Regions from separate parts of the Homo sapiens genome. Here regions 2, 3 and 4 are each linked to region 1. Evidence: fine-mapped expression QTL. A gene starts in region 1. Each other region holds a variant in brackets. All regions are shown on one strand. Distances are from middle to middle. Region 1 holds the start of CLEC4F (C-type lectin domain family 4 member F). Region 2 holds the start of LINC01143 (long intergenic non-protein coding RNA 1143). Region 3 has its middle 5.7 kb from the start of CD207. Region 4 overlaps FIGLA (folliculogenesis specific bHLH transcription factor).

What was found. PIP is the estimated chance that this variant, and not a neighbour inherited with it, causes the effect.
Region 2: its variant is fine-mapped to the expression of CLEC4F in tibial nerve (GTEx, PIP above 0.99). The same link has a PIP of 0.9 or more in aorta, breast, cerebellar hemisphere, cerebellum, gastroesophageal junction and left ventricle.
Region 3: its variant is fine-mapped to the expression of CLEC4F in monocytes after Pam3CSK4 (Quach 2016, PIP 0.95).
Region 4: its variant is fine-mapped to the expression of CLEC4F in whole blood (TOPMed, PIP 0.92).

What each region holds. Positions count from the first base shown.
Region 1 is chr2:70,817,500-70,823,162 of GRCh38, forward strand. It overlaps CLEC4F (C-type lectin domain family 4 member F), which reads right to left and starts at 3,100. Exons shown (of 7, transcript NM_173535.3): 1 at 2,964-3,100; 2 at 2,276-2,392; 3 at 1,856-1,945. The coding sequence starts at 3,024.
Region 2 is chr2:70,885,763-70,891,425 of GRCh38, forward strand. LINC01143 (long intergenic non-protein coding RNA 1143) reads left to right here and starts at 2,109. Exons shown (of 4, transcript NR_126384.1): 1 at 2,109-2,418; 2 at 2,524-2,586; 3 at 3,714-3,826; 4 at 4,059-4,222. RefSeq lists an enhancer at 1,966-2,616. The variant T/G (reference allele first, on the strand shown) is at 2,607.
Region 3 is chr2:70,838,645-70,844,307 of GRCh38, forward strand. No RefSeq gene overlaps it. Among named protein-coding and RNA genes, the nearest start is that of CD207, 5.7 kb to the left of the region's middle. The variant C/CACAA (reference allele first, on the strand shown) is at 2,396.
Region 4 is chr2:70,781,226-70,786,888 of GRCh38, forward strand. FIGLA (folliculogenesis specific bHLH transcription factor) reads right to left here. Exons shown (of 5, transcript NM_001004311.3): 3 at 4,190-4,414. Among named protein-coding and RNA genes, the nearest start is that of FIGLA, 6.6 kb to the right of the region's middle. The variant T/C (reference allele first, on the strand shown) is at 2,234.

The DNA of each region.
Region 1 (5,663 bases):
CCACAGATGGGTCATTATGGGAAAGAAAATAGGTATGAATAAAGCCTGTGGTTAGTCCTACATTATATTTGTACACCAAGCATAGAGCCTCTTGATTCACCATTGTTACTTGATAAAAACCACCACAAACATAAGTTTTATGATGGCAAATTCCATGGAGAAGAAAACACAAAGGAAAGAAACAGAAACAAAACAAAATAGGTGTGCTGGGAGGAAGTACCCTGTTCAATCAACAGGGCTATGATAGAGGCATGCCATGCCCTCCAGGTAACTAACACTGGACCTCAGCTGAGATGGCCTTTTAAAGAGCCAGCACCCCCAGTGTTACATAGGGCAAGGGTCCCTACAGAACAGTTTGAGGATACAGGAAACCTGAGTAAAAGGCCTTGCGCTGGGGTCGTTGAAGGAGACCCCACAGCCCCTTTAATCTGCAAGGTCTTTCCCACCAACCTCACATGCATCTACCTCTGGTCCTGCTAGCATCCTTTGTTCACCTCATGAACTAGGACCTAATCTCACACATCCATGATCCCCTTCTGATTCCAGTCTCCCCTCAGGAATAGGGAGAAAAACCCAAGATGGCAGGGACCCTTTCTGGAGCATCCATGTACTATTTCTCATGCACTGCCTATGTAGATGTGTGAGACCTCAGTTACTGTGCTAAGGTAAGAGAGGGGACCTTTCAAGGTACTGGGAGTTCAGTCAAAGATTCTGCTTTGTAAAGATAGACAAACAAATCAATGCGACAGAATGGAGAATACGGAAGTAGACCCCCACACATATGGACAATCGAATTTCAACAAAGGTGCAAAGGCAATTCACGGAGAAAGATAACTTTTTCAACAAATGGTGCTGGAACAATCAATTTCACACCATTATACAATAATTAACTCAAATGAGGCAGAGACCTAAATGTAAAACTAAAAACCGGGCTGGGCATGGTGGCTCACGCCTGTAATCCCAGCACTTTGGGAGGCTGAGGTGGGCAGATCACGAGGTCAGGGGATCGAGACCATCCTGGCTAACACGGTGAAACTCCGTCTCTACTAAAAATACAAAAAATTAGCCAGGCGTGGTGGCGGGCGCCTGTAGTCCTAGCTACTCCAGAGGCTGAGGCAGGAGAATGGCATGAACCTGGGAGGCAGAGCTTGCAGTGAGCCGAGATCACGCCACTGCACTCCAGCCTGGGTGACAGAGCGAGACTCCGTCAAAAAACAAAAACAAAAACTAAAACTAAAAACTGTACAATTTCCAGAAACAAAGGAGAACATCTTTGTAGCCTTGGATTAGGCAGATTTCTCACATACGAGATCATGAGAATAATCCATAACAGAAATAAAATGATAAATTAGACTATCAAAATTAAAATCTTGTTAGGAGAATGACAAGACAAGTCACAGACTGAGAGAAAAATATTTGCAAATCACATGACTAGCAAAGAACAAAGAGTACATACTCTATGATCTCTTATCTATAAAACTCTAGAAAAAGCAAACTAATCTATAGTTACAGCAAGTAGATCTGTGGCTGCCCAGGGATGAGGAGAGGAAGGGAGAGGAAGGAATTACAAAGAGCCACAAGGAAACTTTGGGGTGAGGAGGATGACTATGTGATGATGATTGTGGTGATGGTTTCAGGGGCACACACATATGTCAAAACTTAACAGATTGTATGCTTTAAATATATACACCATTAGACCTCAATAAAACTGTGTTTTTAAAAAATTATCTCTTTCTGTGAGGATGGTGGAGCCCATTCAGTGGTCAGAGGGTACCAGGAGAGAAGCTCATCCTAGGGTCTGAGCATCTGAAGGCCCCAGTTCCCTCTGCACCCCACCCCCACTGTGGCTACTCACTGTTGGGTTCAAAAGGTAAATGCCCAGTAATGTTGTCTCCCAGAATTACGGCTTGCACAGGCTTCGGAACAGGTCTTGTCTGCTGTTGAACTGAGACATTCCATTTTTCCAGGTCAGCAAATCCCCAGCCCTGAGCCTGGGAGGATACGCTGTCCCACACAGAGGTAGAGTTCCAGAACCGGGGAGATAGCAGCAAAGACCCTCCCAGGGTTTCCCTCATGAACCTCAGTTCTTGGGAGGCTCCCCCTTGGACAGTGGCCTTTATCTGTTCCCAGGGAAGCTGTGGCTTGGGCCTGGAGCTGGAGGTGGAATGATCTTTCTGGGAGCAGAGAGGCCCAGAGAGTGTGCATCTGGGGCCCCTGGGGACTTTGTGCTGAAAGGAGAGAAAGTTAGTGAGATTTGGGTCACCTGGGGGCTTACCCACTACAAAGAGAGTCACAAGAGAGAAGACCAAGGTCACAGCCATAAATGCCGGGGTAGCCTGAACGAGCCTCGGTATCTTGGGGGCTGCAGGAGCCATTGCCACAGAGTCCACCTCTGCAGGGGAGAAGGCAGTGTCCAAGGTGAGAGGGTGCTGTGCAAGGTAAGAGGGTGCTGTGCAGGCTGAGACACAGCCTCTCTGATTCTGTTTCCTGGGTTGTCTAATGGGGATGATAACTCCTGCCATGCTTATCATGCAGGTGGTTATGGAGAAGGAAGACAAAACACTTTGGGCTGTTCACCAGAGCTAGATGTGGATATGGTAGCAACACAGAGCTGAGGAGCTCTGAGACCGAGACCACCGATCTCCAAATCTCAAGGAGGCTTTGGTGGTGCACAGGGCACAGAACCTGGCACAGAGCACAGAGCAACAAAAGTGTAGTTTGAATGAAAGAAGAAAGGAAGGGAGGGAGGCCTCACAGGACCAGCTCAGTGTGCAGAGCCGGGATTCCAAGCCAGGACCATCTGAATTCAAAGTTCATCCCCTTTCTCTTGCCAGGTCTGCATCCCCAAGGACAAGGGTCTGGGGAGAGCAATAAGACAGCAATAAGCTGCCTTATGGCAGAGGGCCAAAGGACAGGCAGGCTACTCCCTCACTGGGCAAGAGCTGGGGCCCCAGTTTTCTCACCTTGGGGGTGCAGGGAGACACACTGGTTATCTGTGCAGAAGCGGACTGCCTCACCGTCCATCTCTGCTTCCTTGATCCTCCAGCACTGCTCCCAGCCACTGGCTCCTGGAAGGGCCGTCCCGTGGACCAATGGCAGTGGAAGCAAAGCTGAGACACCCACACTTATATGCTCCTGACCACCCTCCCAGCTCTTCCTCCCTCCCTGCCTGACTCTGCAGAAACCCGCCCCAGTGGGCCCCTCCCCTAGAGGCTCCCAGATACCCATCTGCCCTATTTTCTTCCTCTTCCCATTAGCACCTTCCCGTCAGTTCTCAGCCCCATCATCCCAGCCTCTGCCGCATCCAGCATAACCCCAAACACACCTCTTCTTCTCTGGGGGCTGGGACTGGCACCTAGGAAGGGGGTCTCAGCTTTGCACAGAAAACATCCTTATGACTATGGCTGACCTTTAATTCTAGCCTCAGAACCTCTTAAGTAAAAGGAGTCAGGTAAAAGAGGGGCCAGGTCAGTGCGGCCGATATTTGCAGGTCAAAGGAGGAAGCGGGGTGACCAGCCACTTGGGGACTCACAACTGAATTATAGTATACAGGAGGATGTGCGGAGGTTATATAAAAATACTACATGATTTTGTACAAGGGACTTGAGCATCTGTGGACTTTGGTACCCATGGGAGTCCTGAAACAAATCCCCTGCAGATACCAAGGGACAACTCTGTAAAAAATATATCTGGTCTTCATCTCAGTTCCTGACACAGAACTCCTAAAACGCTTAGAGTTTCCTGGGTGACAGGAGTGTTTTTTGTTATTCATAATAAGCCCCTTAGGACTACACTTGGGTTTATGCTAATGAGGTGACACAGGGTGGACCCTTAGATAATTTCAGGCTGGAGGCTGGTCCCAGAAAGACCAAACATGGGATTAGACTTTGGAAGACTGGGACTTTCAGCCACCCACTCCCATTCCCTACTCCCAGACCTCCAGGTATGGGAGATGGCCTGGGGTCTGGGCTATAACGACTCTTAAAAAATGAGATTCAAGGAGCTTAGGGATTGGTGATCCACATGCCAGGAGGGTGTCATGCCCTGACTCCACAGAGACAGAGTCTCCTGCACTTGGGACCCCACTGGGCCTTGCCCTGTGTACCTCTTCATCAGGCTGTTTTTGTCCTTTACAATAAAAGAATAGGAAGTACAGTGTTTTTCTGAGTTCTGTGAATTGTTCTAGTGAATTATGAAAACTGAGAGGTTGTTGCAGAAACCCCCTAATTTTTTGTTTGAGACAGGGTCTCCCTCTGTCACTCAGGCTGGAGTGCAGTGGTACGATCATAAGTCAATGCAGCCTTGAACTCCTGGACACAAGTGATCCTCAGTTCTCAGCCCCAACATCCCAGCCTCTGTCACATCCAGCATAACCCCAGCATAACTGGGACTACAGGTGTGTGCCAACATACCTGGCTAATTTTTTATTTTTATTTTTTTGTAGAGATGGGATCTCTTTTTATACCCCAGGCTGGTCTGGAACTCCTGGCTTCAAGTGATCCTCCCACCTCAGCCTCCCAAAGTGCTGGGACTACAGGCATGAGCCACCTTGCCTAGCCAGAACCCCCAAATTTGTAGTTGACCAGGCAGAAGTGGGGTCACTACCTCACTTGTAGCTAGCATCTGAAGGGGGGCAGTCTTGTGGGACTGAGGCCTTACCCTGTGAGATCTGTGCTAACTCTGGAAGTTAGTGTTAGAATCTGTTTGAATTGTTGGATGCCCAGCGGGTGTCAGAGAATCGGCTGGTGTCAGGAAAAAGCACACATTTGGTGTCAGAAGTGGTGTCAGAAAATACCAAGCAGGCCCCAACTTTAGCTGATTGGATCCATGCCTCCTGAGGTGACCAGGTTCTCAAGACTAACTCCAAAGAATCTGATGGAGCAGGCTGGGGCCAATGTGTGGCTTTCAATGAGCCCTATCCCTTCCAGGAGGAACAGATACTGCTTCAGGGGTTCCTGCTGCTGGGTGGGCCTAGCATTAGAAGAGAAGGCATGAGGCATCCCAGTGGACAGTGCCATGGAGCTGTGCAAACGTGATGTCCCTGTCCCTGCCACAGGGGTTACCAGCTGAACAGAACCAATATTCCCATGGCTGGTCAAGGAACCCCTCTAAAAGCCAGTGCTGGGGTTACCAGCAGATTCCTGTTCTTTGGTTCCTTCTTGTCTCCATTACTTCAAACGGTCACAATCTTTTTGAAATAAATCACATTTTCTTTCACTTTGGAAAGTCTAATTACATATTACACCATCATAGCAACTCTTAAACAAACTCACAACCTTGCAAATGGCTTGTTCCATCCATGTTGTGTTGTTTCTTTGCTACTTTCACCCTCTGTTCCTATGTCCCATTCTCATGTCTTTTGCACAGATCCTGGGGTCAGCCTCTTATAGGTCCCCAGCTGCCAACTAACAACACTGCAGACCAACCACAAAGGTGGAGAAGCCACACGGAACGTGCCTCCTCTGAGGCCGGGCCAGGAGAACAGCTTTGGCCCAGGAGGAGCCTGTGCCATGCGTGGCTGATGTCAACCCGGCAAGCAAGTCGCCCCGTGGGTAGGGGATCTGCAGACAGGAAGGGAGCGGTTGCCCACACCCAGTTCATGATGGTGGGGGTGTGTGTGTTTGTGTGTGTGTGTGTGTGTGTTGAACTGTGCAGTGTTAGGG
Region 2 (5,663 bases), 68 kb after region 1:
ATCTTTTGGCACTGTTTGAACTTTTATTATATAAAATACAACCACATAAACAAATATGTAATTTTTTAATACAGACAAAAAAATGATGGAACATCTATATAATGTTACCAAGACAGCTGCTAGGAATGAGATAGAGCTACTTCCATTAACATGTAAGAAAACTATGACCTATTTTTTTAAGGCAATTTGCAGAGTGGCAGGGAATATAAATCATTGTTGCAAAAAACATCTAAATAGTTCACATATGCAACGTAGTAACTATAAGCCATGCTACTTCTGCACAGAGGATTAAGGAAGGACTTGTAGACACTTGTCTGATTATTTTATGAGTTTGTGTTCACTTATAATCTTTAAATTAATCTTATGTGAATATATTCTTATTAAAAAATCAAATAATATATGTATTGCTTTTATGATTTAAAATACATATTACTGTGGTTTAGAGAAGAAATTGTTTCTTAAAGGACAATTCCTATTTCTTTCTTCAGCCTCAAGAGTCAGAAAGCAAGACAATTAGTATTTTTAAATAAGGAAATGTAAACTAGTTTTCAGTAAAACATAATTTACAACAATAATGATTATGTAATCATGCCTCTATTAATACAGCAACCGTTTAAAATAATGCAAATGCACAATAACCAGGCTGTCTGTTTCCAATTTCCTTGGACTGGATGGCGAGAATCCCACTTTCCTGGACTTTTCCACCCACATTTATGATCCCTCGCAGCGTATAACCACTACGTACCTCTCCAAACCCAACAAACTTTGCAGCCTGCGCAGACAAAGGTTTCTATGTTTCTCTCTCCATTTCTACTTGGCAAACCCCTGCCTGGGGCTGTACTCGGGAGTCACCTTCACTTCCTTGCTAAGTCAGGTGAAGCCTTACCTGACTTTCTCCAGGCTGGGGAAAGAACCCCCACACCCCTCACCCACTCCCCGGCTCCCATTGCCTCTTCTTTCCTCTCCCTACCGTGCTGCCCACTTTGCGCGGTAATTTTTGCTCCAAGGGCCTGCCTCCCAGAGGCTTGGGGTGCAGGGAAAGTGCTCTAAGGGTGGGACTGATTTAGTCTGGACATTCCTGACCGGTAGCACCACGCCCATAATGACCCGAAAATAAATGCCTGCGTAAATTGCTTTGGGAAGCGGTTGGGCAATTTATTAAGAGTAGTGAAAATGTCCCCTTCCTGCTGAAACAGTAAGAATCTTGAAGAAATAATCCTCCCCAAAGGAGAAAACTATATACACGAAGATTTTAGGTTGTGTATTATTTTCATACAGAAAAACTGGACACGGAAGAATATCAAGTAATTGAACGGTTAAGTAAATTACACAGTAACATAATAGAGCATTACTCGGCCATTGAAAAGTATACTTATGAGGATCATAGCACATAGCAAATACTGAAGTGTGGCCTCAAGTAGAAAAGACTGAATACAAAACTACATGTTCACCAGGACTAACATTATGCAAAATAAAGATGCACATTTAAAAAAAAAAAAAAAAAAGACTGAGTCTTTTAGGGGTAGCACGGGGATATTTTTCCTGCTTTCAATTCTATTATTGCTGTTCTAGCCATGCGAACAGTGCACAGAGGTTGGAAGTGGCGTCAAGAGGAGTCTTACCATTGTGTATATGACTGTAAAACTGAGAAAAAGAAGGTAATATCAGCCTGGGGAATGCATTTCTAATGGCGGGACTTCCTGCACCTTGACCTGCCAGTCGGGGTTGTGGCCCGGCAGTGGCATTCCCAGGGGGTCTCAGAACAAAACGACGGCCACAGAGTCCACCTGGACAAAAGGGCAGGGAAGGGGCCCCTCGCCCTTGACCCTTGGGCTCTGCTCCGGCCACCCTGAGCCGAAGGCTGTTTGGGTGAATGCGTGGGGTTTCTCCGGCGATCGATCCCTTTGGACTGGCTTCCCCACTAGCAACCTGCGCGTCCCCACCAGAACCAGCCGGCTGGCCGAGCGAAAGCCCGGTTTCGGGAGACCTTGCGGGGAGAGCAGCTGGCCCTCGCCCACCGGGCCGCGCTTTGTCTAGGGCGCGAGTCCGCCCGTTTCCGGCCCCGCCCCTCGCCCTGGTCCCAGTCCGCCCCTCCCCCTACCCGGCTTCCGCGTCTCCGCTCCCGCGCTGCCGGCTTCCGCGGCTTCCCCCACTTCTCAGCCTGCTTCTCTCTCCCCTCTCCTTCCTTTCCTGTCCTTTCACACTCGCGCCCCAGCCCCCGTCACCATCTACCCCAAGGACTTGCAAACTTCGCCCCTGAGGAGCGGACTCTTCGGTTCTCCGTGGAAAATCAACCAGACCCAAAACAGAGGTCCCGGGTTTGGGGATACCACGCCGCGCGCCTGAGCATCCGGGCTCCATTTCTCCAGGCGACATCTGCGGGAAGGGAGACCTAAAGGCCAAGGCTGGGGACGAGAGGCAGGTGCCTGGAGTAGTGGACGGTGGAAATGGCGACGGCGGCCTGCACCCAGCGATCCCGAAAGTGCCCATGTATCCGTCCATCTGGGTTTTTTTTTTTCTTAGATCATCCACCAAGGCCGGGGTTTCCGAGTGAGGCGCCCACTTCGCATCCCACAGTACCGCCAGGTGTGTTTCCCATGAGCTCT[T/G]TAAGAGAGAACCCAAGAGCTCTTTAAGAGAGAACCCAAATAATGTGTGAATACCTTCTCCAATAACTTCAAGTCAGAGGCTCAGACACACACACACACACACACACACACACCCCTAAAACATATTTATTTCGTGGAAGAGCGTGTATCCCTCGGCTGTCCTTCCAGCTCTCCCTTGGTGCGTGTGCAGGACGCACAGAAGGGTGGAGTGTGGGTTGCGATTATTTTTACACAGAAGGTGTCACACTCTGGGATCTGTTCCGCAGGGAGGCCACAGGTGCCAGGAGACGCGGGAGAGACTGGCTCCTGCCAAGAACATTTCTTTGCATTGTTCAGTGCGGTTTTTTATTTTTATTTTTGACTGTTTGTTTGCCTAAGAGATGACTTCCCTTGCCAGAAAAAAAAAAGTGTTGTAAAAATAAAAGGAAACGGGATTACGATGTAAAAGACGAATAGATAAACCCGGTTCCGCAGATCTGCGGCGCGCGCGCCTGGCGACCTCGGATACATTCATTGAAGTTGCCGCGCACTCGTACCCGGGTTCACCTCGCCCCTCGCTCATTCCTCCCGACCAAGGCCCATGGTCAGAGGTGTCCTCGCCCCGCGGCCGTCAGAGGGCGCGGCCTACACTCGAATGCCGGCCGAGCCCTCCACGCGCTCGGAACTTGGGCTTCCCGGTGCAGCCTCCCCGCGATCGCAATGCCCGCTGCCTTTCCCGAGCCCAGTCCGGAACCCGCCTCTCTCGGGGACCTTGACCTCGCGCGGACCTCGTCGCCTTGCTTAGCTCTCCCTGACCTGCTTTTGAACCCGCTAATCCCGTCCCGAACTCTCGCCCCGCGGCAATCCCTCGCCCCGGCCCTGGCGCGCTAATTCCCGCTGACCCCGCCGCCCCGCCGCCTCTCTCCGCTCGCGCGGCTGTGACCAGGATAAGGGCTTCCCGCCTCTGAGTGCAGGTGTGATCTGGAGCTCAGGCAACTACTGCCCCCGCATTGTCCCCAGCCCGCGCTCGCACCCCCAGGACCCAAGCAAAGCGTCTCTTGCCTCAAACATTCTGCCCTTCTCTTGCTTCCTCTTGTTTCCCTAGCATAATTCATGTCTTTCTTTAAGAAACCCATCGGACCCACAAAGATCAAAATCTTCGGTAACACACCAAACTGGCGACGCTGTGGGGAAGCAAGCACTCTCCCAAGTGGCTGGCGCGCAGTGAGGGCGCAGGAAAGGTAAGCAGGAGACCCGCCGCTAGGAGCCAGAGCCAGGCCGGCGAGGCGGGCAGGCAGGAAGAACCGCGGACAGGGCGACTTGATCTCATTTTTAAAACCGGAGAGTGAGATGGGACGAGAGCTTGAGCTTCTAGGGATGGGGCTGAGATTCTGGAGAGACACCTGGTAGTCATTTCTTAATCTTTTGTGCTGCTTAGAATTTTTTCTTAGATGCATGTTTTCCTTTTAAAAGAAAAAGAAAAAAAAGAAAAGGCAGAGCGGGGTGGCTCACACCTGTAATCCCAACAGTTTAGGAGACCAAGGAGGGAGAAGCCCTAGCGGCCAGGAGTTCCAGATCAGCCTGGGCAACATAACGAGACCCTCGTCTCTGCAAAAAAATAAAAAATAAAAAATTAGGCGAGTGTGGTGGTGCCTGCCTGTTGTCCTAGCTACTCAGGAGGTTGAGGCAGGAGGATAGCTTGTGCTTAGGAGTAGAAGGTTGTAGTGAGCCGTGATCGTGTCACTGCAACCAGCATGGGCGACAGAGTGAGACCTTGTCTCTTAAAAAAAAAATAGTAAAAGTCATTATTTTAAAAGTTGATGAAATTAGTTCACACTACACACATTTACAAACACAGGTCACACACACACACAAACACCTCCAAGGCAAGGGTCTGCACATTTGTTTGGGGTTGTTTTGTTTTGTTTTGTAAGCAAACTGAACCCAACACAAAGCACTGTACTCCCCTTCTTGGTGTTTATTACAGGACCATGGAGGCTTAGTAAAAAGCATTTATTTAAGGGGAGTTATTTTCAGAGGCTGTTTTCTAGCCAGGAAAAAAAAAAATCGGATACTTAGACTTATCCCCTGGTATGTGCAACATGTAAACAACCAGGTAGCATGCTTCTCCCACCCCCAAAGATCAAACTCCAGGGTTCCAGCCTTGGCCCTGTATCAGTCTGACTGCCCCTGGAAGGTTGGCCATCTCCAGTGATATAGGCTACATGACCGACTATTCGAGTCTGTTTGGCTCACAGCTGTCCCCTAGTGCCTGGCATATTTTAGGAACTCAATAAACATTTGTTAGATGACAAATATTTCAAAGAATGTGCAACAGCTCCTGGAGAACTGTTTCCAGTAGATATAAATTCCTAGCAGCATCTTGGGGTAAGAGGACGGGCCCCCGAGGCTGCCACCTCTAGAGGGCCTTGGATAGTGGCCAGTGCCTTCCCACACAGGCCCAACAGTCACCCAAAACAGGCTGTCATTCAGCTCCTCACCCTTGCATTTTGAAAGTCCTCTCCCAGGGTCAAGAGATAGAGAATTCCTCTAGCCTGGTCCCACCCAGGCCAGTGGCTCCTAGAGACTCAGTCCCTAGGTAACCCCTCCTATTCACCATGGACAATAGGCCACTCAGCAGACAGGCCTTGGATGCTTGTTGGGACCCACCTGAGCCCGAGAGCAGAGCTTCTGGCTCACATGGTGAAGGGGAAACCAGAGAGAGGGTGACCTAGGAAGAGGTGCCAGAGATGCCTGGCTCCTGATTGCCAAGGTCAGTCTGGAACCCGCTTGCAGGTGACACAGATCACTGATCGCAAATGATTATTGCTTGAGGCAACAGGGCCCTAAACCTGAGGGTTTCCTAGCACTGGGGACATGGGAGACAGGTGGTTAGTGACCTTGAATGTACAGTGTTCTGGCTTGCACAGAAGGCATGGCAAAGACAAAAAGGACAAAAAGATGAAAAGGAGACCTGCCTACTTTGTAGTGACTAGTGGCAAAGACGAAAAGAAGACCTGCCTAAGTGGTAAGTCACTGTAGGCAACCTCTCTGAGGCACAGTCAGGAAGGAAAGGTG
Region 3 (5,663 bases), 21 kb after region 1:
GTCAGGAAGGTGGGCAGTTCTCCCGGGCACTCAGACAATGCCCTGCTCTTCCAAACAGAAGAGGAACTCTGGCCAGACCTAGTGACCAAAAAAATCACCGCTGTGATGAGAACGGGAAGTCTGTGCTCATTTTTTTAGTTTCTCCTCTTCCTGTGTTCCTGGGGTTCTAATATTTTCTCTGGATAAGGATGGAGGAAGAAAACAGCTTGGTCACTTTTTCCCTTTCTCTGGTTGAGACTATGGTTGGGCCCAGCCTTATGCTTGGAGGAGAACCATGGGTTTAATCAACAAGACTGGAACAGAGACCTGGGTTGTATGAAATGCTCCAGCAGTGCCAAGAGTCATCTCCAGGGAGGAGTCACCCAAGTCCCTCAGTCAAGTCATGGAGGAAAGTAGAGTGAACACCAAATTGCGGAGTGGGGACAGGGAAGGAGAAGAGAGGGAGGAGGGGAGAATGACTCTGAAATGAGAGGAGATTACAGCTGGTCACACCTGGCTTACATAGGGACTCCTGTGATGTGATGCGGGATTTGGCCCACAGCCTCCAAAAAATCAAGGGATTCCATGCCACCCTCCGGACATGCGCCCTGGGCACAGGGGATAGGGCAGAGAAACCAAGGAGCATAGGTGGCACCATTCACTCCTCTAGTCCTGCTGTGCACTAGGTACCAGGACACAGCAAGGAAAAAGACAACCACAGACCCTGCCCTCAGGAATGGTTTTCCTATTGTTGAAAAAATATGACATCCTTAATGCTGGGGAGAAGGGAAGGCTCTCCCGAGACTAAAAATGACTGACGACACTATAGGGGCCTTCCCAGGTCTCCTTGGACCCTGATAACGGGTTCCTCTTTTATGACATTATATGAGGACAGGTCTCTTTGGAACAGTGACAATAAGCCAGACCCTACTGATCAGGGTATTTCACCCAGTGCCATCATAAATAGTGTGATATGTAAATAGGCTGGCAACCTAGCCACATGGAAGAGCTGCTGTGTACCCGGCAGAGGAGGCTGCCCCAGACTACGTCATAAGTCAAAGAACTCATGCCTATAGCCTCAGTGGGAAGGGCAAATCTATGTCAGGAAAGTAATGAAAGGCTTTTGGGAAAAAAAATGTGCATAGTTTCTTTTTAAATCTTTTATTTATTATATAATTAATGATAATTAATTATAGAAAAAAATCCAAGTAAGAAAAAAACCCACCATAGGCTGGGTGCAGTGGCTCATGTCTGTAATCCCAGCACTTTGGGAGGCCAAGGTGGGTGGATCACCTGGGGTCAGGAGGTTGAGACCAGCCTGCCCAACATAAGTGAAACTCGTCTCTACTAAAAATACAAAAATCAGCCAGGCATGGTGGTGGGTGCCTGTAGTCCCAGCTACTCGGGCGGCTGAGGCGGGAGAATCACTTGAACCTGGAAGGTGGAGATTGCAGTGAGCTGAGATTGTGCCACCGCACTCCAGCCTGGGTGATAGAGTGAGACTCTGTTTCAAAACAAAACAAAACACAACAAAACCATCGTAGAGAAAACAAATGTTGTACCCATAGTTCAGTCTTCCTAACCACCCACGTGTATATGTATACACATCTATATCTATAGCCATAGCTGTGTCTAATCATAACTATGCATATATTATATACATATTCACAACACAATTCCTGCTTATTTTCCCTAGCATCCTTCCCCACCTCTCCTGCCTTTCTTTTTTGTTTTTTTGTTTTGTTTTCTTTTGTTTGAGATAGAGTCTCACTCTGTTGCCCAGGCCGGAGTGCAGTGGCGTGATCTCGGCTCACTACAACCTCCGCCTCCAGGGTTCAAGCAATTCTCCTGCCTCACCCTCCTGAGTAGCTGGGACTACAGGCGTCTGCCACCACATCCGGCTAATTTTTTGTATTTTTAGTAGAGACGGGGTTTCACCGTGTTAACCAGGATGGTCTCAATCTCCTGACCTTGTGATCCACCTGCCTTGGCCTCCCAAAGTGCTGGGATTACAGGCGTGAGCCACTGCGCCCAACCTCTCCTGCATTTCTGATACCAAAAATCCCCCTCCATTGGGAAATTTTTTCAGTTTGTGATTCAAATGGGGCTGCTGATCCTAGATACCCGCAGGTGTAGGAGTGACAACTTGCAATGATGGGTGCCCAGGGTTTGGGTAGGAAGGTAGCTCTCCTCTCTCCCTAAACTGAGGGACCTAAAGATATGACTATAGGGCAGCTAGTAACCAGTTCCTCTGTCATGTGGAAGACCCCAGTAGAATAAGACCAGCACAGAGACAGAAGCTGTAACAAAAAATGAAGAGACAGAAAGTGAGTCCTGGTGCCTTTGAGTGCTGGATCCTGTTGAACTTGAGTTCCATTCCCCACAGACACTGTGTTTCTTGGTTTGGTTATGTGAA[C/CACAA]ACAAAAATGAAAATCTCTTATTTTCATTTGAATTTAATTGGATGAGTTTCTGTTTCTTGCAACCAAAGAGTCCTGTCCAATGCGTTATGTAAGCATATACATTTTTTTTTACAAAACTAGACTTATACCCTATAGTGTGTAAGTTTTTTTTGTGTAATAATATATTATGGATAACCTTAAAATCAAACTTACATCTGCATAATAACTTTTATTTTTATTTCATGCTCTATTGTAACTTCATTTTCACTTTTTATATTTGATACATTTGGATTTCATGATTTTCCATTTTTTTCTTATCTCTTATGGTTTTGTTCAAGTATTCCATGATTTTAGAAAGGAATCTAACTTATCCATTTCTAAATGGGTAGCCTGCTGTCCAGATACCATTTTTTAAAACCATGCATAATTTTATCTCTGATTATGAAGTACCATCTTCATCATGTGTTTCATAATATGTTTGAGTTTGTTTCATATCTTTAAAGGTCTGTTTCTGGACTTTCTGTTGTGTTCCATTTGTCTTTCTATTGATATAACAAAACTCTACAATATTAATTAGTATAGCTTTATAATAAAGGCCCTATCTCCAGACACAGTCATATTGAGGATTAGGGATTCAACATGTAAATGAACAGAAAACACAATTCAATCCATAACAGAGCTCATAGAACAGACTAGCAGAAAAATATAACCCGTAATAAGGATAAAAACCAATCTACTGAAACGAACCCAGAAATGATACAGATGTTAGAATTTCCAGACAAGGACATTACAATAGACATTATAACTGTGTTTCTTGTGTTCAAACAGTTAAATAGAGACATGAAACATTTAATAGATACAAATTGAACTTATAATGACTGAAAAAACTACAATGCCTGGTATGAAAAATACACTGAAAGGGATTAATGGCAGGTTATAAATTGTAGAAGAAAAGATCAATGAAGTTGAAGATATGCCAATAGAAACTATGCAAAATGAAGCTCAGAGAGAAAAAATAACAGAACATCAGGAAGTCTGAGACAACTTCATGCAATTTAATATACGTGGATTTGAAGTCCTCAAAGCGGGTGGAGAGGGACAGAAAACATATTCAAAGAAACAATGGTCAAAATGTTTCCAAGTTTAAGAGCTATTTATTTATATAATAACATGGATGGGTCCATTCCAAGATGGCCAAATAGGAACAGCTCCGGTCTGCAGCTCCCAGCGTGATCGACATAGAAGAAGGGTGATTTCCGCATTTTCAACTGAGGTACCTGGTTCATCTCATTGGGACTGGTTGGACAGTGGGTGCAGCCCACAGAGGGCGAGCCAAAGCAGGGTGGAGTGTCACTTCACCCAGGAAGCACAGGGGTTGGGGGATTTCCCTTTCCTAGCCAAGGGAAGCCATGACAGACGGTACCTGGAAAATCGGTACACTCCTGCCCAAATACTGCTTTTCCTACGGTCTTAGCAACCAGCAGACCAGGAGGTTCTCTCCTGTGCCTGGCTCAGAGGGCCCCACACCCACGGAGCCTTGCTCACTGCTAGCACAGCAGTCTGAGATCGACCTGCGAGGCTGCAGCCTGGCTGGGGGAGGGGCATACACCATTGCTGAGGCTTGAGTAGGTAAACAAAATGGTCAGGAAGCTCAAACTGGGCACAGCCCACCACAGCTCAGCAAGACCTACTGCCTCTACAGGCTCCACCTCTGTGGGCAGGGCATAGCTAAACAAAAGGCAGCAGACAACTTCCGCAGACTTAAACATCCCTATCTAACAGCTCTGAAGAGAGCAGTGGTTCTCCCAGCACAGCGCTTGAGCTCTGAGAACAGACAGACTGCCTCCTCAAGTGAGTCCCTGACCCCCGTGTAGCCTAACTGGGAGACACCTCCCAGTAGGGGCAGACAGACACCTCATATAGACGGGTGACCCTCTGGGATGAAGCTTTCAGAGGAAGGATTAGGCAGCAATATTTGCTGTTCTGCAGCCTCTGCTGGTGATACCCAGACAAACAGGGTCTGGAGTGGACCTCCAGCAAACTCCAGCAGACCTGCACTGACTGTTAGGAGGAAAACTAACAAACAGAAAGGAATAGCATCAACATCAACATCAACAAAAAGGACATCCACACCAAAACCAAGCCAACATCAAAGACCAAAGGTAGATAAAACCACGAAGATGGGGAGAAACCAGAGCAGAAAAGCTGAAAATTCTAAAGAACAGAGCACCTCTTCTCCTCCAAAGGATCGCAGCTCCTCGCCAGCAACAGAACAAAACTGGGTGGAAAATGACTTTGACGAGTTGACAGAAGTAGGCTTCAGAAGGTCGATAATAACAAACTTCTCTGAGTTAAAGGAGCATGAGCTAACCCATTGCAAGGAAGCTAGAAACCTTGAAAAAAGGTTAGACGAATGGCTAACTAGAATAAACAGTGTAGAGAAGACCTTAAATGACCTGATGGAGCTGAAAACCATGGCACGAGAACTTCGTAACACATGCACAAACTTCAATAGCTGATTCGATCAAGTGGAAGAAAGGATATCCGTGATTGAAGATCAAATTAATGAAATAAAGCGAGAAGACAAGATTAGAGAAAAAAAGAGTAAAAAGAAACAAACAAAGCCTACAAGAAATATGGGACTATGTGAAAAGACCAAATCTACGTTTGATTGGTGTACCTGAAAGTGATGGGGAGAATGGAACCAAGTTGGAAAACACTCTTCAGGATATTATCCAGGAGAACTTCCCCAACCTAGCAAGGCAGACCAACATTCAAATTCAGGAAATACAGAGAACACCACAAAGATACTCCTCAAGAAGAGCAACGCCAAGACACATAATTGTCAGATTCACCAAAGTTTAAATGAAGGAAAAAATGTTAAGGCCAGCCAGAGAGAAAAGTCGAGTTACCGAGAAAGGGAAGCCCATCAGACTAACAGCGGATCTCTCAGCAGAAACCCTACAAGCCAGAAGAGAGTGGGGGCCAATATTCAACATTCTTAAAGAAAAGAATTTTTAACCCAGAATTTCATATCCAGCCAAACTAAGCTTCATAAGTGAAGGAGAAATAAAATCCTTTACAGACAAGCAAATGCTGAGAGATTTTGTCACCACCAGGCCTGCCTTACAAGAGCTCCTGAAGGAAGCACTAAACATGGAGAGGAACAACTGGTACCAGCCACTGCAAAAACATGCCAAATTGTAAAGACCATTGATGCTATGAAGAAACTGCATCAATTAATGGGCAAAATAACCAGCTAACATCATAATGACAGGATCAAATTCA
Region 4 (5,663 bases), 36 kb before region 1:
CATGTGGTGAGGGGATGGCAACAGAGATGGGAGATGGGTTATACACAGGGGCATCCTCAGATAAGTGGCTGATTCCAGGGCTGGGATAGAAAAGTACAAGATGAGCTTGGAACACCTTCTGCCAAAAAGGAAATGATCAAATAATCGTGATGACATATCAAACAGAAAGGCTGCCAGCTTAAGGAGCTTTCGCTGGCCACAGTGGGGACAATTGGAGCAATAAAATAATAAAAAATGATAGTATATAATAATCCACTGAATTAAACAGAAAACCATGAGCTCATACTAATATAAAAATGTCTGTATAAAAACAACCAAAATGTTCTAAAATATTTACGTGAACAGTTAAACTGTGGTACATCCACACCACAGATGACTACTCAGCAAAAAGCAGAGGAACAGACCATTTATACAATGTGGATGATCTCAAGGGCATCATCTGAGTGGAAAAAGACCATCTGTAAAAGTCACATAATGTATGGTCCCATTTTTATAGCATTCTCAAGATAAATTATAGAGGTGGAGAACAGATTAGTGATGTCCAGGAGTTTGGAAGAATGGAGGGTTGGGAGCAGAGTGTAGGTGTGACCATAAAGGGGCAGCGTGAAGATCTTTGTGGTGATGGAACAGTTCTGCATCTGGATTGCAATGGTGATTCCATGAATCTACACGTGTGATAAAACAACATACAACTATGCATACGTGGTACCAATGTCAGTTTCCCAGTTTTGATATTATACTATAGTTATGGAAGATGCAACCATTGCGGAAAACTGGGCTACGGATGCACAGCACTTTTCTGTACTATTTTTGCAACTTCCTGTGAATCTATAATTACTTCCAAATTACAGATTTGATAAATAAATATAGAATGTTTGATGAGTAATGAGATCTTTACATAGTTTCAAAGCACCTCCTCACAAAATACATATTAATTACAAAAGAAAAAGATTAAAGTGAAAGGCTTGGCAGTCACCACCTTAAGCAAGTGATCAAAGTGAATATCCTTAGAAATAGAATAAATCAAAATCTGCCCCATGTAATAGGATGCAATGAGTAGAAAACAGCATCACTTTTGTTATTCCTGCCGACGATGCATATCTGAATCTAATCGAAAGGAAACAGACAAATGCTGATCAAGACACGCTCTATAAAACAACTGGCCTGTAATCTCCAAACGTGTCATGGTTATAAGTCACAGAAGCACCAAGAAACTCTCCTTCCAGACTGAAGGAGCCATGGCAACTAAATGTAATTCATGATTCTCAGCTGGGTCTTTTTGCTAGAAGAGACATTATTGAGACTACTGGTGAAACTTGAATGGGACCTGAGGATTGTATGGCGGTAACGCCGCAACATTAATCCCCAGACTTAGTGGTTGCATTGTGGCTATGCAGGGGAATGTCCTGTTTGTAAGAAATGTACACTGAAGCCTTAGGGGTGATGGGACATCAGGTTGACCCTCAAATGTGCCAGGAAAAAAGTTCTTTGTACTGCACCTGCAACCTTTCTATAAGTTGACTATTGTTTCAGACTAATTTTTTTAATTTTAAAAATTAATGGCTGGGCATGGTGGCTCATGCCTGTAATCCCAGCATTCTGGGAGGCTGAGGTGGGCAGATCACGAAGTCAGGAATTTGAGTCCAGCCTGGCCAACATGGTGAAACCCCATCTCTACTAAAAATACAAAAATTAGCTGGGTGTGGTGGTGTGAGCCAGCTACTCGGGAGGCTGAGGCAGGAGAGTTACTTGAACCCGGGAGGCGGAGGTTGCAGTGAGTCGAGATGGTGCCACTGCACTCCAGCCTGGCAACAGAGCGAGACTCTGTCTCAAAAAAAAAAAAAAAAAAATGATTTGAATGTGAAAGGATGAAAAATCCTTGACAAAACTGATGAAATACTAGAATGCTTCTGCAAAAAAATGGCACTCTTTACAATCAGGCCTCAGAAGTCATACTTGACAGAAGTGACATGCACTGTCTATAAAAATCTCAAACGTCGAGTCTTCCTTGGTTCATTCTACAAATTAGCACTCTTCCAATTAACAACAAACTTGGTTGGCTAAAAAGACTAAATATTAAGTGTTTTACTCCCTTTTTTGAAGGAAATTCCAGTCAGAACATCTCTGGCTTTTACTAGGAAACGTTAGTCCCCACTCTAAATTAGTGTACTATACGTGGCCTATGCCCAGGTTCAATTATCCTTGGAAAACAAGGACCTCCCATCAAATGTAC[T/C]TGCTACTAGTACTGCCAAGCACAGGCCTGCTCTGCTACTGCAGAGGCTCCTGTCCCAGCCCAGGTCCAACAGGACTGGCAGGAAGGTGTAGCCAGGTGGCTCACCATGACAGTGACATGATGACACCTACCTGACAAGGATCAATGAGGATTAAGTGCAAGTAAGATTTTCACCTTGATACTAGCATTTGCAGAAGCATTACTCTTCTTAGATAGTCAGGCTCAAGGTCTAGCTCAGGTCATTTTTTTTTTTTTTTTGAGATGGTGTCTCACTCTGTCACCCAGGCTGGAATGCAGTGGCATAATCTCAGCTCACTGCAACCTCCCCTCCCAGGTTCAAGCGATTCTCCTGCCTCAGCCTCTTGAGTGAGTAACTGGGACTACAGGTGCCCGCCACCACGCCTGATTTTTAGTAGCAATGGCGTTTCACCATGTTGGCCAGGCTGGTCTCGAACTCCTGACCTCAGGTGATCCGCCCACCTCGGCCTCCCAAAGTGCTGGGATGACAATTGTGAGCCACTGCGCCTGGCCCCACTCTTTTGTTGTTGTTGCTTTTAGTCATTCCATGTCAGCTCATGTAGTAGCAACAGGAATTCTGTCTCCTATGGGTTGACTGGCCAGCGAAATCTTATATCTCAAGTGGTCAGAATATGAAAATCTACACTGAGCATATGCACAAATGAATCCTAGAACACAATTAATCTAATCAGAAATGGAAGCCAAGGCCGCCCACCACCTCTCTCCCCACCCCTGCCCTGCCCCCACCAGCCAGCAGGAAGCCTGTAGGACCTCAAATCAGAGCACAACATTGGTGAGAGCCAAGTGAGAAAACTCAAAACACTGGCTACAGAGCTAGAATACCTGTGGCTCATTATTGCTCACTAATCAATGTTGATTGCTCATGAGTCAAGAGAAGTTGGTATCTATCCAAGTGACGTGACAGGTATTATGCCAGATACTTTGCTGACATGATATCATTTGGAGTTAGTTATCTTATATACAAGGTAGGTACAATTATTATACCCATTGCTCAGATGGAGAAACTGAGGATTAGAGGCATTTAGTAGCTCATGCAAGATTATACAGCTAGCAAGTGGTAAAACCAGGGTTTAAACCTCAGTAGTCTGTTCCCAGAGCCTACTCTCAACTGCTCGCCTCAACTGCCTCCCTCCAACCACCATCTGTGACTCCACAGCCCCCACTGTCCCTTATATCATACCATGCAACATGTTTGTTACAGCATGCTTACTTCACATTCCTATACACCTTTCTTATTTCAATAGTAATTGTGTTGCAGAGTAGGATAGAGCAGGGGCCTCATTTATGAATACCAGTTCACAGCAAGGGCAAAAAGTCCACTTCTGGACTTGGAGAAGCATGCTGCCACTTCCAGCTGTCTCTTTAGTTGACAAAGTAATAACAGACAATAAACTCCTTTGTTATTTCATTTAAAATGTTGTCTTACAACCAGCACCACCCCCCACCACAAAAAAAAAAAAAAAGTATCACCAAACATGCATCTTTATGTATGGCAAGCTACTTACTTCTTTTTCTGGAGACCATAGAGTCCAGAAAACCTTTTGATGGGTTAAATAGGATCATTTAAAAGATAAACTTAGGTCTGTATTGGGTGGTTCTGGGGTTAAATAGGATCATTTAAAAGATAAACTTAGGTCTGTATTGGGTGGTTCTGGGGTTAAATAGTTTCATTTAAAAGATAAGCTTAGGTCTGTATTGGGTGGTTCTGGAGGAGTTTCCCCTTCCCTGGAGCCGCTTACCAGTTAATTTAGAAACAAAATAATCTCCCAAACTAGTAAACCCCACTGCCCCACCCAAAGGCTTTCATTAAATTATCTTGTTTTAATCATGTTTTAGCATGGAAAAATGACTCATATCTCAAAGTATACATTTTAAGGTTCTGATATCTGTATGGGTATTTAAGAAGGAATATTTTACCAGACTTCTGGTTGGGGAGATAATTTCAGTCGTAGACATCACACTGTGGCGACAAGCGTGTGCTGGCTCACCACTGCCACCATCTGCCCAAGGCCCTTCCTCTTCATTCTTCAAGCCGAAAGCACAGCTGATATGTTGGGTGATGTTTCTTGACAGCTGTCTTGCCGAGGATGTATGTGATTCAGAACTGTTGTTACTATAGCTCTGCTCATCTGGGTCTTGTTTCTGGAAACCATATTTAGTTGTCAAACAGTATAATATGACAGAAAGATTTTGATGACTTAAACTAATATATTTCAAAGTTTTAACTGATGAGGTTTCATTTAAATGATAAGGGCAATGCTTAAGTCATTATGGAGAGAAAAGCATTGTTCAATTGACCGTATTTTGTTCTCCTATCATCTTAAAATGTTATGCAATAGGTAACTGCATTAAAAATATTATGGCATGGAACAGATGGTATGTTTTACAATGAACAAAGCACTTCTGTTACACAATTGACATGCAAGAGAAAACTAAGGTAGCCACCTACACATGTCCAAACACTGTGACCATACCAAAACCCAACCATCCAGTTTGACCAACAGGACAATTCACTCCTGCCATCGCAGAATGTAGCTTCCTAGCAGTCACCTGGCTAGGACTAATGGAGAAGAAAAAAATATTCAAAGGTACTATCATACACCTGGAGATTTCTGCCCCAAATTTCTAGGATAATTGTTTCTTTTCTCTCTAGTATCTCTCCTTCTGTTCCTAAACATGATCAAATTTCTACATAGGAAAGACCTTCACTTGATCTAACAACTTTTCTGCCTTTTTTTTTTTTTTTGGCAGGGGGTGCAGGGAGTGGGGTGGGGGGTGGTTCTTCTTTCCACTCTCGGACTTCTAGGTTTTCTTTTTTTTGGGGGGGGACAGAGTCTCGCTCTGTTGCCAGGCTGGAGTGCAGTGGCGCCATCTCAGCTCACTGCAAGCTCCGCCTCCCAGGTTCACGCCATCCTCCTGCCTCAGCCTCCTGAGTAGCTGGGACTACCGGCGCCTGCCACCACGCCCGGCTAATTTTTTTGTATTTTTAGTAGAGATGGGGTTTCACCATGTTAGCCAGGATGGTCTCGATCTCCTGACCTCATGATCTGCCTGCCTCAGCCTCCCAAAGTGCTGGGATTATAGGCGTGAGCCACCGCGCCTGGCAGACTTCTAGGTTAAATGGACTTGAAGTTTGCCACTTTCCTCTGAATCTGCTTGGATTCCAGATATTTACCAATCATGCACCCTCAATCTCCTCCAAGTTGATGCCCAGCCCAATTCTCTTTCACCTTTCAAGTGCTAGACATGGTGCTTCCCCCAGTCCTGGCCTTCTTCAGCCTCTCTGTAACCTCTCACACTCCTCACCTTTAGTTTCCTAAGGTTCTCTCCTCCTCAACTTTATGACCCCATCTTGTTCCTCTACCTTCTTGCCACATTCTAATGATGATTC